Linked DNA regions of Homo sapiens. The protein of the gene in region 1 purifies or fractionates together with the protein of each later gene. This does not show direct contact. Each region holds a gene or a part of one and is shown in the gene's direction. Other genes may lie near its edges.

What was found.
Region 2: the proteins of TNFRSF13B (region 1) and FIZ1 purify together in Homo sapiens (co-immunoprecipitation; 3 studies listed by BioGRID and IntAct, with this or other methods). This does not show direct contact.
Region 3: the proteins of TNFRSF13B (region 1) and RBM27 purify together in Homo sapiens (co-immunoprecipitation; 3 studies listed by BioGRID and IntAct, with this or other methods). This does not show direct contact.
Region 4: the proteins of TNFRSF13B (region 1) and RRP1 purify together in Homo sapiens (co-immunoprecipitation; 3 studies listed by BioGRID and IntAct, with this or other methods). This does not show direct contact.

Annotation. Positions count from the first base shown.
Region 1 is NC_000017.11:16,962,119-16,965,618, reverse strand, and holds part of TNFRSF13B (tumor necrosis factor receptor superfamily member 13B), read left to right. Parts: intron 1-3,500. UniProt on the Homo sapiens protein: Receptor for TNFSF13/APRIL and TNFSF13B/TALL1/BAFF/BLYS that binds both ligands with similar high affinity. Mediates calcineurin-dependent activation of NF-AT, as well as activation of NF-kappa-B and AP-1.
Region 2 is NC_000019.10:55,590,876-55,593,696, reverse strand, and holds the end of FIZ1 (flt3-interacting zinc finger protein 1), read left to right. Parts: intron 1-50; coding exon 51-1,247; 3' UTR 1,248-2,321; downstream 2,322-2,821. UniProt on the Homo sapiens protein: May be a transcriptional repressor of NRL function in photoreceptors. Does not repress CRX-mediated transactivation.
Region 3 is NC_000005.10:146,202,479-146,206,404, forward strand, and holds the start of RBM27 (RNA-binding protein 27), read left to right. Parts: upstream 1-1,126; 5' UTR 1,127-1,287; coding exon 1,288-1,346; intron 1,347-3,926. Other genes in the region: RBM27-POU4F3, read left to right, coding at 1,288-1,346. UniProt on the Homo sapiens protein: May be involved in the turnover of nuclear polyadenylated (pA+) RNA.
Region 4 is NC_000021.9:43,792,577-43,796,076, forward strand, and holds part of RRP1 (ribosomal RNA processing protein 1 homolog A), read left to right. Parts: intron 1-95; coding exon 96-153; intron 154-742; coding exon 743-828; intron 829-2,612; coding exon 2,613-2,674; intron 2,675-3,500. UniProt on the Homo sapiens protein: Plays a critical role in the generation of 28S rRNA.

The DNA of each region.
Region 1 (3,500 bases):
GGAGGGAGCTGCTGCTGAAACTCAGTATGATCCCTGCCCAGCTGTCTATCAGCACAGTGCAAGAATGCGGCTTGCTTTTCCTTCCGCAAGTCTTTACTGAGTACAACTATATCCAGCTACTGATTAGCATTTATCCAGCACCTGCTGTGTGCCTGCTATCTTGGAAGGCACTGGATTCAGAGACAAATGAGACAGTACGGGGAGGCAGAATGGCTATACCCTGAAATGTCACATTACCAACAAGAAATGTCACCCAGCAGTGGGTTCTGGGAGTTCAGGTTCTGGGGGTAGTTCCCCCAGCCCAGAGCACTAATTTGATGCTACTATCATTATTAATGATTATCATTGGCTGGGCACAGGGGCTCACAGCTGTTGTCTTAGCTAATTGGGAAGCTGAGGGGAAAGAATCACTTGAACCCAGGAGTTCAAGGCTGCAGTGAGCTATGATTGCACCACTGTAATTTTGTAGAGACAGAGCAAGACCCTGTCTCTACAAAAGAAAATGTTAATTATCACTAATATTAAAATTATTTTACATTATTATAAATTATTATAAAATGATAACTATTAACCCATTATATTTCATACTATTTATATCACTACTGGTAGTTATTATACCAGTAGCAGCAGCCATGTCTTGGGCCAGTTACATGCTTGTCATGTACACACCCTTGAGAAGATCTACAAAAGAAAGTCTAGAGTGTCCATTTTACAGGTCAGGAAAACTGAGGTTGTGCACAGCCAGAGTCCTTCCCAAGATGACTCAGCCGTGCTTTCCCCACCACGGGCACTTCACTCCGGCACACTCTGGGTCACTGAACCATGGCGAATCCGTTTTCAACATGAGCTGGCAGGAGGTGAAAATTATGATGGGTAGAAGTGGCTGTCCCCATTTCACAAACAGAAAACTGAGAAGGTGACTTGACCAGTTTTCCCAGGACCTAACTAAGTTCTTCTTCCTTTAGAACCAGCATGGGAGGCCGGGCGTGGTGGCTCACGCCTGTAATCCCAGCACTTTGGGAGGCTGAGGCAGGCAGATCACCTGAGGTCAGGGGTTCGAGATCAGCCTGACCAACATGGAGAAACCTCATCTACTAAAAATACAAAAATTAGCCGGGTGTAGGGGCACACACCTGTAATCCCAGCTACTTGGGAGGCTGAGGCAGAAGAATTGCTTGAACTCGGAAGGCAGAGGTTGCAGTGAGCCGAGATCTCACCACTGCACTCCAGCCTGGGGAACAAGAGTGAAACTCCATCTCAAAAAAAAAAAAAAAAAAAAAAGGCATGGAGATGGTGGACTCTCAACCTTGAACATCTCTGAAGGTTCATTCTGAGTGGAGGTGGGAGCAGGCAGGGGGGTCTTAGAGCCATTTTCAGTATTTCAAAATAGCCCGGGGAAAAAGCATATACAGCTCACAGAAACCAAAAGCCATCTTTTCCTCCTCCTCCTTCCTTCTCTCCTTCTCTTCCCTGTCTTCCTCATCTCTCTTCTTTTTCCCTTCTTCTCCTCTTCTGCCTCCTCTTCCTCATCCTTCTTTTCCTCCTCCATTTCTTCCTCCTTCTCCTTCCCAGTTAGCAGAAGCCAGGTTGTAAGGTCACCATCCATTCCCATGCACATCCCTCAGGTCTCAGGCTGCAGCCTTATCGGGGCACACACCCTATCTCTGCACGCTGGAATCCTCTCCTGCCCCTACCCCACTGGTGAGCTCAACTCATAGCCCCCAGCCCAAGTTTGCAGTCAGTGTTTGCTTGAAAGACTGGATGAGAAAGGCCGGGCTCTGTGGCTCACGCCTGTAATCCCAGCACTTTGGGAGGCCGAGGCGGGTGGATCAGGAGGTCAGGAGATCGAGACCATCCTGGCTAACACGGTGAAACCCTGTCTCTACTAAAAATACAAAAAAATTAGCCAGGCGTGGTGGTGGGCACCTGTAGTGCCAGCTACTCTGGAGGCTGAGGCAGGAGAATGACGTGAACCCAGGAGGTGGAGCTTGCAGTGAGCCGAGATGGTGCCACTGCACTCCAGCCTGGGTGGCAGTGCCAGACTCCGTCTCGAAAAAACCAAAAAAACAAAAACAAAAACAAAAACAAAACTTGATAAGAAATTCCTCCTATCTGCCAAGCTTTTACTGTTCCTTCTCTTTCAGTCACATCTACAGGTTTTCTTGGTGAAATTGTAAAGGGCAAGAATGAGGAGCCCACCCATCGCCCCAACCCTGCTCCTTCACTCCTGCACAGACACCTCCCCACCAAGGAGGAAAAGAGGGAGTTGGCTCACGCCAACAGGAATTGGCCCCTAAAATTTTTGTTGTCTCGATCCAGGTGTAGGCCTTGTCCAGCACAGCACTCCTTATCATAAGAAATGGCAATATTAATAAGGGCAGCAGCTCAGGGGGTTGTCTTTACTAACGTGCTCAATACCATACTAGGCACCTGCCATGCATATGCTGCTCACAGTGATTCTGTGAGTAAGCAACAGCATCCTCATCTTACAGGGGAGGACGCTGGGTGTCCAAGAGCAGAAGTCGTGCCCAAGGTCACACAGCAAGGAGTACCAGCCCCATGACTCACAGCCCAGGGTTCCAAGCAGGGCTGCCCTGTGGCTTTCCCCAGGCTCATCCCCAAAGTGGCTCAGAATCTGGTCCACTCCCCCTGCTGGTCCTTGACTTGTCCATTTTAGACGCTCTGGATTGATTCCCCACTTTCTAAGGTGAGAACTTAACTTGGACGTCACTATCTGCATGCATGCAGCTTCCCCTCCCCCGGCCCCCGGTGAAGGAGGGGTGCGTTTTCAGTTGGAGTCAAGATAGACCTGCTGGCTGCCGGCTCTGCTCCAGAATGTCAACTCCTCTGCAGTTTTGTTCTTCCCCTTCTCCTTGCTCTCTCCTAGAAAGCCTGTTTTTGCCTTTGCTCACTGACAATGGTCTAATGGCTCTCACAGTGAGTAAACTCTTTTACAGAAGGAATAATTCCACATCTCCACCTTATTTGTTGACTCAGATGGCTCATTTATTTATGACAATATAAATATTGCCCACAGCTGAGCTGCTGTACATGTCCTATGATTACCTTTCTTTTCCTTTCTTTTTTTTTTCTTTCTTTTTTTTTGGGGGGGGAGACCGAGTCTCACTCTGTGGCCCAGGCTGGAGTGCAGTGGCACAATCTTAGCTCGCTGCAACCTCTGTCTCCTGGTTTCAAGTGATTCTCCTGCCTCAGCTTCTCAAGTAGCTGAGATTACAGGCATGCACCACCACACCCAGCTAATTTTTGTATTTTCAGTGAAGACAGGGTTTCACCATATTGGCCAGGCTGGTCTCGAACTCCTGACCTCAAATGATCCACCTGCCTTGGTCTCCCAAAGTGATTGGAGAACAGGCATGAGCCACCACACCTGGCCTACCTTTCTTTTCTCAGTAATGTCTTTTGTTTCCCTGGAGTTGGTAACTCCTCTGTTTTCCATGCAGGTAATTCATCTCCAGCTCTGGGACAAATCCACCCTGTCA
Region 2 (2,821 bases), on another chromosome or scaffold:
CGGGCTAGGTTCTCAGCCCTGACGTTGTGCCCTTCCTCCCGCACCCCTAGGTCGTCCACACTGGTGAGAAACCCTACTGCTGCCTGGTCTGCGAGCTCCGCTTCTCCTCACGCTCCAGCCTGGGCCGCCACCTCAAGCGCCAGCACCGTGGGGTTCTCCCCTCTCCCCTGCAGCCCGGCCCTGGCCTGCCCGCCTTGAGTGCGCCCTGCTCCGTCTGCTGCAATGTGGGGCCCTGCTCGGTGTGCGGGGGCTCAGGGGCCGGCGGCGGAGAGGGCCCCGAGGGGGCAGGCGCGGGTCTGGGCAGCTGGGGGCTGGCAGAGGCGGCAGCTGCGGCCGCGGCCTCCTTGCCCCCATTTGCGTGCGGCGCCTGCGCGCGGCGCTTCGACCACGGCCGCGAGCTGGCGGCCCACTGGGCGGCGCACACCGACGTGAAGCCCTTCAAGTGCCCGCGCTGCGAGCGCGACTTCAACGCGCCCGCGCTGCTGGAGCGGCACAAGCTGACGCACGACCTGCAGGGCCCGGGCGCGCCCCCAGCGCAGGCCTGGGCCGCGGGGCCAGGCGCAGGGCCCGAGACGGCGGGCGAAGGCACCGCTGCGGAGGCGGGCGACGCTCCTCTGGCTTCGGACCGCAGGCTGCTCCTGGGCCCCGCGGGGGGCGGCGTGCCCAAGCTCGGGGGGCTGCTCCCCGAGGGCGGTGGGGAGGCGCCTGCACCTGCGGCGGCCGCCGAGCCCTCGGAAGACACCCTGTACCAGTGCGACTGCGGGACCTTCTTTGCGTCGGCCGCGGCCCTGGCCAGTCACCTGGAGGCCCACTCGGGCCCGGCCACCTACGGCTGCGGCCACTGCGGGGCTCTGTACGCGGCGCTGGCCGCCTTGGAGGAGCACCGGCGGGTCAGCCACGGTGAGGGCGGCGGGGAGGAGGCGGCGACCGCCGCCCGGGAAAGGGAACCGGCGTCCGGGGAACCCCCGTCTGGCTCCGGCCGCGGCAAGAAGATCTTCGGCTGCTCCGAGTGCGAGAAGCTGTTCCGCTCACCGCGAGACCTGGAGCGGCACGTGCTGGTGCACACTGGCGAGAAGCCGTTCCCGTGCCTGGAGTGCGGCAAGTTCTTCCGCCACGAGTGCTACCTCAAGCGCCACCGGCTGCTGCACGGCACCGAGCGGCCCTTCCCTTGCCACATCTGCGGCAAGGGCTTCATCACGCTCAGCAACCTCTCCAGGCACCTGAAGCTGCACCGGGGCATGGACTGACTGCCAGGCTGCGTGCGCCCTGCCCTCCACCCAGCCTCCTGGACTCGGCCTGGACCAGGGGACCTCGGGACTGCGCGTGAGGCCCCGGCCCTCCAAATCCAAATCCAGACGCAGGCCCTGAAATGAGGGGACCCTGACTGGAGAGGTGGGGGCCACCAAAAACCCACAAAGGCCCCGGAGCTGGGGGACCACAAACAAACAGGGTCCTTAGCTGGGGCAGGGGAGCCCAAATCTAGGGAGAGACTCCTGAGCCTGAGGTCCCTGGAATGAGTGTGGGTAGCCGTAAGTCCCCAAGACATGGGGACTTTGCAGTGAGCAATGGGTCTCCACAAGTACCTCTCATCTTGAGAGCCCTAATACTAAAAGATGGGCACCCACCCCCACCAAGGGAAGACTGCCCCATTCCCTGAGAGCCATCATTCCTAACGACCTTGATCTGGAGAATGTGGAGGGAGCATGTCCCTGAATTTTCCTAGATCCCTCCAAATGCCACCCACCAGAGTCACTGGTGACCCCAGAAAATGGATATAGCCGAAATCTGCCTTTCCCCTTTTTCATTCCCTGTGCTGAAAGAGGGACCAGGGTAGATGCCCCCTGCCCTCGAATCCCCCCTCCCCGACTGTGGAATGGATCGACCCTAACGATCTTCCCCGCCCCAAACACTAGAATAGACTGGCCTGAAATCCCCTTGCCCAGTAGAATGGACTGATCTATGTGCACACACCCCCATCACATGGAATGGGCTGGTCTAGGCTGTGGCCTGCCACCTTCCTTAGAGTGAATAGGGCGGACACTCCTCTCTTTTCCTGTAGCGTGTGGACCGGTCCACGCAATTCTTTATCCTGTGAACTCATCTGAGTGGGAGGTGGTGGACACTGGGGTTTCCTTCCCTCTCTCCGTAGCATCCGTTGGTCTTTCTCTCCATCTCTGTTGGTTTGTCTGTCTCTGTCTTCCTCCCAATCCCTAGGGGAAGGGGGCATTTGGCTAGGGGGTGCCCCTGTGAGCCTCGACCTTGCCCCCTCGTCCCTCTCCCCAGTGTTTCCAGGACCCCCAATAAACCTTGTCCTGTCAGTCGCTGATGCCTCATTTTCTGATCCTTGGCTCCAGGCGGGGGGGATGGGGAATCTCTTAGGACAGACTCCCTAAATAGAGACGGGTCCTCGTTTTCTCCTGAGAAGTTTCAAAGCTTTGAATAGTACATGCCCTTTTAAATTAGAGTCGGTTTAGGCTGGGCTTGGTGGCTCACGCTTGTAATCCCAGCACTTGGGGAGGCCGAGGCAGATAACCTGAGGTCAGGAGTTCAAGACCGTGCCTGGCCAACATGGGGAAACCCTGTTTCTACTAAAAATACAAAAATTAGCCGGGTGTGATGGCACATGCCTGTAATCCCAGCTACTCGGGAGGCTGAGGCAGGAGGATCTCTTGAACCTGGGAGGTGGAGGTTGCAGTGAGCCGATATTGCACCACTGCACTCCAGCCTGAGCAACAGAGCGAGACTCTGTTTCATAAATAAATACAATTAGAGTCAGTATCAATCAAAATGAGTTCCGTCCCTTAAATACATGATCCACCTC
Region 3 (3,926 bases), on another chromosome or scaffold:
GTTTGCCTATACCTGTTCTATGTATATATAGGATGTCTGTTTATTTGAGGTTGATCCATTTCTTTTATATGAGGTGCGTGCTCATTAGGTATTTTTCAAAATGTTATTACAATGCATAACCCCATAAACTGTTCATCATCTTAAGAGGAGAAGCTCTGTTTTGCTCAGCATTGGACTCCTAGTGCCTTACTCAGTGCTGGCAATTGCAGGGACTCAGTATATGTTATTGGGTAAACATTTTAACATCAGTGCTAAATCAGTGATTTCAAAACTCCAGAAAGAATTTCTCACCTACTAGAAAGTAAGTTGACTATTTCAGTAGTTTCTAATTTGTCTTAAAAATTTTTTTGTAATCCTTCTTTGCTGATTAAAATTCTCCCTTCCCGTCCCCCAACCACTGAATTTTAGATATACAATGAAAAGATAATTAAAAACAAACTATTGGAGTCATTTTTCTTCCTAAATAAAGCAACATTTATTAATAGTACTAGCAAAATTGAAATGGCCTCAGCCTTTTACATCCGTGCGCCACGTTTTAAAAATGACGATTACTGGATTCCAAGGCATGGTTGTCAGAAACATTCTGCGTAATTAAAGCAGAGCAGCAGAAAATACAAACGTGAGTGCCAATCAACATGAGTGTGTAAAGAAAAAAAGTAAAATTTTGCATTCTGTGCAATGTGTCGAACGTGAACGTATTGCACGTTGTGTTGCAGATTTACTACAGCTGAGTCATTTCGGGACACGAGTGTGTGTTTCCAAGAAAAACGAGAGGAAGGAACCAGGCTGAGGGGCTCGCCGGGTTCCCCCAGGCACTCCCAGCAGCAGACACCGGTATTCCGCGGCGGGCGGCGGCGTGGTCAAAAAAAGGCGCCGCTGCCCCTTTAAGAGGCAAAGCACCTTTTCCAAGATACCATCTTGCACCAGGAGTTCACTTAAGCTCTCCACCTACCTTGCTATATCTCTCCTCCCTGACTGGGTACCGCCTGCCGGCGGGGCGAGCGAGCCTTTTCATTGGTCTTGCCCTCAGGGCCCCCTCTCTCTTACTGGTTCTCAGGCCTGCCACTCGGCACTGTCTCCCGCCCACCTCAGCCTTCGGGCTAGGTTGAGTGAGGGCTCTTGGGTTAGTTCCTGTTAGGCCCCGGCCGGGGGAGTAGGTTGAAGTCTCCTAAGATGCCCGGTGGGCTGGGGCACCGGGAGCTGTGAAGGGAACGTGAGGGGGCGGCGTAGTGGAGACCCACGGCAGGCCTGAAGAAGAGCGGCGGCCGAGCCCGCCTTCCCTGCACCATGCTCATAGAGGATGTGGATGCCCTCAAGTCCTGGCTGGCCAAGTTACTGGAGCCGATGTGAGTGAGCCGGGCTGGGCCGGGGCCGGCGAACGTGGGCGTTGGGGGCTCGCGGGGGCGTGGGGGAGGGGAGGTGGCGTGGGGGGCGGCGCTGAGGGGCCGCGGCCGGGAGGTCCCGGCGACGCCTTCCCTGTAGTACTATCACCATTGTGGTGGGGGTGAGGGTGGGAGAGGAGCGCTGGGGACGGAGAGGCGCCGTGAATATGGGGACTGGGGGGGCAGGCAAGGACAGCGAAGGCTTTTCAAACGCAAATATCGGGGTGCTGGAAGGGGTAGCAGGGGCCGTGAGGGAATTTAAAACATTGCTGTTTGAGAACTGAGAGAGAGGTAACGGGGCTCTTGAGGGATTTTTAAAATGTGAATATTGAGATGTCGAAGGGAATAGCAGAATATCAAGGGTTTGATAAACATTATTATTCCGGGACTGAAAGGTCTAGAAGCAAAATATCGAGGGCATTTTCGAAATATGAGGGCAGAAGCGGATAGCAGGGACATTGAAACTGTATAGCGATTATTGGTAAGTTCTGAGGGATCAAGAATATTGAAGGATTTGAAAAATACTATGGAGTAGATGAAAAGGATGTGTGGGCATTGAAGGGTTTTAGAAATTATTGGGGAGGTGATAAGTGTGATAGCAAGGATATTAAGGGATTTTAAAGTATTATTGAGGGCTTGATAGTGCTAGGGGAACTGATGACTTTTAGATACATAGAGGTTGGAAAAAAGAGGTTTCTGTAAGTTTAGTTGAAGGTTGAAAGGGCTACACTGGTATGCAGCATTAATTGGTGGAGGAGTATACCTAACAGTATGTAGGGATTTTTAGATACAGGTGGTGTTGGAGGAATAAAAGGAGCGGTAGAAAGAATAAGAGATTTGTAAGTATTCTTGTGCCATTGAGAGGACAGTTTTGTAAATGTTTTTGTAAGATTGAGAGGACACCTGAAGATAATTGGGGTGTAGTATGAGGGACCGAAAAGAATGAGAGACCTGTCTTTTAAAAATATTTTGGGTGGTGTTAGTAGAAATGTTATTGGGAGGCTTGAAAGAGGTAACAGATGTATCAACATTTTGTTTTATAACCTTTTTTTTTTGAAACAATGTCTCGCTGTGTCTCCCAGGCTGGAGTGCAGTGGCTGGATTTCGGCTCACTGCAACCTCCGCCTCCCGGGTTCAAGCGATTCTCCTGCCTCAGCCTCCCGAGTAGCTGGAACTACCGGCGCGCGCCACCACGCCCAGCTAATTTTTGTATTTTTAGTAGAGATGGGGTTTCGCCTTGTTGGCGAGGCTGGTCTCGAACTCCTGACTTCAGGTGATCCGCTCGCCTTGGCCTCCCAAAGTGCTGGGATTACAGGCGTGCGCCACTGGACCCGGCCATGTTTGATAACCATTTTAAAGGGTAGAGTTGTGGAGTGCTTATTTGGGGGAATGGGGTATGGCTAGTTACTGGAAGGGAAAGAATCATGTTTTGCCTCCTCCTTGCTTCTGCTTTATTATTCTCTTATTGAAGGTTAGAGCTTTCTGCTTGAAAGAAAGGGGTAGAAGAAGAGATGGGCAGGCTTTGATTCATTAGGTCAGATTGCATTAGTGGAAAATTTGAGTGTTTTTCGGAGGTGAAAATAGGGAGTAGTTTGGGAGGTGTGGAGGCATGGTAAAGGAACTTCTGGGGGACAGTGTCAAGCTACTTCCCTGTTGATCTCTTTCAGTGAAAATGACTGAACACACTTGAAGGTTTTGTAGAAGAATATAGGTCTCTTGAATAGGGGTTTTTTTAACTCCTACAATAAAGTTTTGGGCACAAAGATGGAAATGGTTTGTGGTGAAGGTGGGAAATAAGATGGATGTAATGAAATTGACCATATATGGGAAAAGGTTGAAAAAAGAAAAATATCTGTATGTTTAAAGTATTCTTCATGTGGCTGGGCACGGTGGTTCACGCCTGTAATCCCGACACTTTGGGGGGCCTAGGCGGGCGGATCATGAGGTCAGGAGTTCAAGACCAGCCTGGCCAATATGGTGAAACCCCGTCTCTACTGAAAGTATAAAAATTAACCGGCTGTGGTGGGGCGTGCTTGTAGTCCCAACTACTCGGGAGGCTGAGGCAGAAGAATCGCTTGAATCCCAGGAAGTGTAGGTTTCAGTGAGCCTAGATCAGGCCACTGCTCTCCAGCCTGGGCAACAGAGCCAGACTCCGTCTCAACAAAATAAAAATAAAAAAAGTGTTATTCATGTTATTTAAGATTAAAAAAGAAAAAATACATCTCTTTATTTTGTATTTCTGCTGCTCTGATGCCTTTAGAAAAAACAACCTACTTTCCAGACAAGTTTAGTTTTGTTGGTAGCTATCCTTTTAAGAAGAATTAAACATACATTTTATGTCTTGGATAGAAGGTAACAACTTTTAGCCTTATAGTTACTTGCTTTTTCTTTTTTTTAAAGCTCCCTAAGATGTTTTACTCTGAGTAGTGCTTTTCGTTTTTTGTTTTTTTTTTTTTCCCCTTAATGTTGAAGGTTAGTCTGGGTGGGAGCTTCTTCTTGCTTAGGCTTTTTTTTTTTTCCTTCTTTTTTTTAAAGCTACTTAGA
Region 4 (3,500 bases), on another chromosome or scaffold:
GAGTGAGTGAGTGGGTGAGTGGGTGGTTGCGTGTGTGTCATTGTGAGAGCCTGGTGCTTCAGGGGCTGAGGGCGTTTTTGTTGTTTCCTACACAGGAAGAATTAGGAAGGACTATTTCCCAGCTCGTTCATGCTTTTCAGACCACGGAGGCGCGTGAGTATGCTCTGCTGTAGTTGGGTGCATTTGTAGATGTCAGAACCTCTGAGCATCAGAGCCACCAGACCCAGGAGGTTTGTGTTCTCAAATCCAGAGTAAGGAATGCCTAAGGGCAAGAGAGCGCCAGCTGGTGTCTGTGGGTGCTTAGCATGTGTGCAGTGCTGGTGTAAGTATTCAACATGGATTAGCTCATTTACCCAAAACCCTCATTTCGAGCCTAATGGGCTAATATCTTACACTTTAAAAATAAAGTGAAAAGCCAGGATAATGTCACCAAGAGATTGGACTGAATTCCGCCTGATGGTCCTGAGGTTCCTGCAGTTGATTTTTCTGACTCCTCTGTTCTCTGGTGACCGGAGTTGAGAAGTTCTTACCCTGCCTGTCTGTAGGACTCACTTGAGGAGCCTCTAAAAATCCTCATGTCCAGATCCTGGTCCAGCAAGATCCAGTTCTGGGGGTAGGGCCTGGGCATCAGCATTTTTTATCTATAGCTATGTAAAGAACGGGTTCCTCCATGTTCTCACCTCCCTCCCCAGAGTGGCTTCGTGCTCCTCAGTGGTTCTCTTCTGGCTTATTCCTTCTCCAGAGCACCTGTTCCTTCAGGCCTTCTGGCAGACCATGAATCGCGAGTGGACGGGCATTGACAGGCTGCGCCTGGATAAATTCTACATGGTGAGGCAGCCACCAGGGTGCCGGCGGGCGGGGGCAGCGCGGGTCTCAGTGCCTGGCCAAGCGAGACAGGCGGCACCTGGGCAGGGAGGCAACCTGAGGCAGTGCGACCCTGAAGCCAGGGGTGGGAGGTGGAGCCGAGACTCTGGGCGGTCCCTGACCAGGGCTCTGCAGCTTTGTCCAGTCTCTGAGGGTCATTGAATGGGCAAGGAATTCGACCCTTAAAACACCACACAAACTTTTGGTTCAGAGAAGGAAAGTGACGATTGCTCTCCTGGTGAGAGTCGATGGTGACACCGTTGTTACCTTGTCAAAGAGGCAGAGTGAGTCTGGAGGCGCAGCAGAGGAGCTGCGGTCACGCCCTAGCATGAGCCCTGGAGTGCTTAGCCTGCGAGGCTGGGATGGATGGTCACAGTGTGGGACTTCCTTTCCCTCCTCCCTCATTGTATCCCCGTTCAGGGCACTGATTTGCCCTGAGAATACAGGGGAACACTGGGGTTTAGAGGTGCAGCGTGTTGCTGCCCGGACCTGCTTCTCTCCTTCCCTCCTTCCCTCTTGTTGAACCATGAGGTCTCGTTACTAAGGTGGTGGTCATTGTAACCTTAGAGCAGGCCTGAGATACAGGGACATTGTCACTGTGTAGGAGTCGGTCACCCAATGGGGACACTGAAAGGGGCCATGTCCGGGTCTCACTGAGGACAGATGTTGATCTGCCACTCTGGCTTCAGTGTCCAGCTCAGATTCGGGCCAGGATTGTGCAGACAGCATATATACCAGTGATTCTAGAAGTGGAGACCAGGGCGGGAAAGGCCTGGAGCTCAAGAAGGAAGGAGGCTCCAGGGCAGGCCAGGGGCCCGGCCATGCACTCAGACAGAGTGCAGACTCTTAGGGACAATGGGGCTCTGCAGGGAGGCCACCCTACTGTTTTGCTGAGATGTGGCTGCTGGGTCCCTGGATGGATGCGTTCTGCTGCTTTCCATGGCTCGTTTCTGGGTGCCCCTTGTGTGGCTGAGTCCAGCAGCACAGCCTTGCGTCAGGGCTAGCCTCGGTGGCACCGCAGGGTGTTGTGGGGGATAGGCCTCCTGTGTCTGCAAGAACAGTGTCCGGGCTGCTGGGCTGTGCTCTGTCATCGGGGCTCCTGGGGGTCCGCGTGTCCTCTGCTGCTACTGACTGCAGCTCAGACCCCACTCTGGGCGTGTGGGCATGCTGGGTCAGTAGCCTAAAGGGGGGACAACTGCAGAAGGGTGTTGAGCCCCATGGAGGGAAATGGCATTGTTGATTCACGGGTGAGGCTTGGCGGGAGGGCCTTCGCTGTGTAGTGGACCGCAGAGGAAGTGAGCTACATTCTGCCCGTTGCGGGGGGTTTGGTGAGGACCAGCCGTGTTTCAGACCTGGTTTTGCGGAGGGCTCCACCGCCCGTGGGGGTAGCCGTGCCTCTTTCCTGGTTCTCCCTTATGAATCGGACTGTTCCGTTTCAGCCCCGGTTTATGGACTGGAGTCGTAGGACTGTCCCCTATTACCCCCGACCCCCCATGCACCTGCTTCCTGCCAGCTGGGGCCTTGGAGCCGGGGATAGGGCATGTTCTCAGCCCAGGGTTCTGAGGGCTTGGTGGTGTGTCCTCCAGCGTCTGTCTGTCAGCAGCTCTGGGGGCCGGCTGTGTGCTGGGGCCGGCAGAGGTCACCACGGCCATGACTTTATCCTGCAGCGGATGGTGGTACATGGGGATGGGTGGTCTGGCGAAGTAGGGCTGGGCTTCTGCTAATGCCAACCTCCTTCTGTGTCAAAGCTCATGCGGATGGTCCTGAACGAGTCCTTGAAGGTTCTGAAGATGCAAGGCTGGGAAGAAAGGTGGGTGCGCGGCGGGCCTGCTCTGGGGGGACGCTGTTCTCGGGGACCGCAGTCGTGTTTGTCATTTGATTCTTTGCCATAAGGAGATGTCAGCCTTTATATTAACGCATGCCCCCAATCGTGCTTAGAGAGAAGATAGTTTTTAAAGTAAAAATCAGTTTGTGTGTTTGTGGAAATGATGCCATTTATCCTCAGGCTTGGAGGCCAGTTCTCACTGGGAGTCAGAAGGGAGTTTTTTAATGAAAGGGTGTCCAGCCGAGGAGCTTCTTATAAAAACACGGCATGTTCCGCTTCATTAGCAATGCTTTTTGTTTTTTTGAAATAGGTGTCACTGTTGCCTAGGCTGGAGTGCAGTGGCGTGATCTTGGCTCAACTACAGCCTTGACCTCCCGGGCTCAAGTGATCCTCCTGCCTCAGCCGCCCAACTGGCTGGGACTGCAGATGTGCACCACCAGGCCCACGTAATTTTTGTATCTTTTTTTGGTAGAGACGAGTTCTGTCCTGTTGCCCAGGCTTGTCTCAAACTCTTGGGCTCAAACAATCTGCCTGCCTAGGCCTCCCAAGTTGTAAGCAATGTTAATTGCTCCTAATTCTAAAAATATGTAAATTGGCTGGGCGCGGTGGCTCACATCTGTAATCCCAGCACTTTGGGAGGCCGAGGCGGGCAGATCACAAGGTCAAGAGATCGAGACCATCCTGGCCACCATGGTGAAACCGTGTCTCTACTAAAAGTACAAAAATTAGATAAATGCATAGAAAAGAATTAGCAGGCTGGTTATGGTGGGTTAAGGGGATCTCTTGAGCCCAGGAGTTTGAGGCTGCAGTG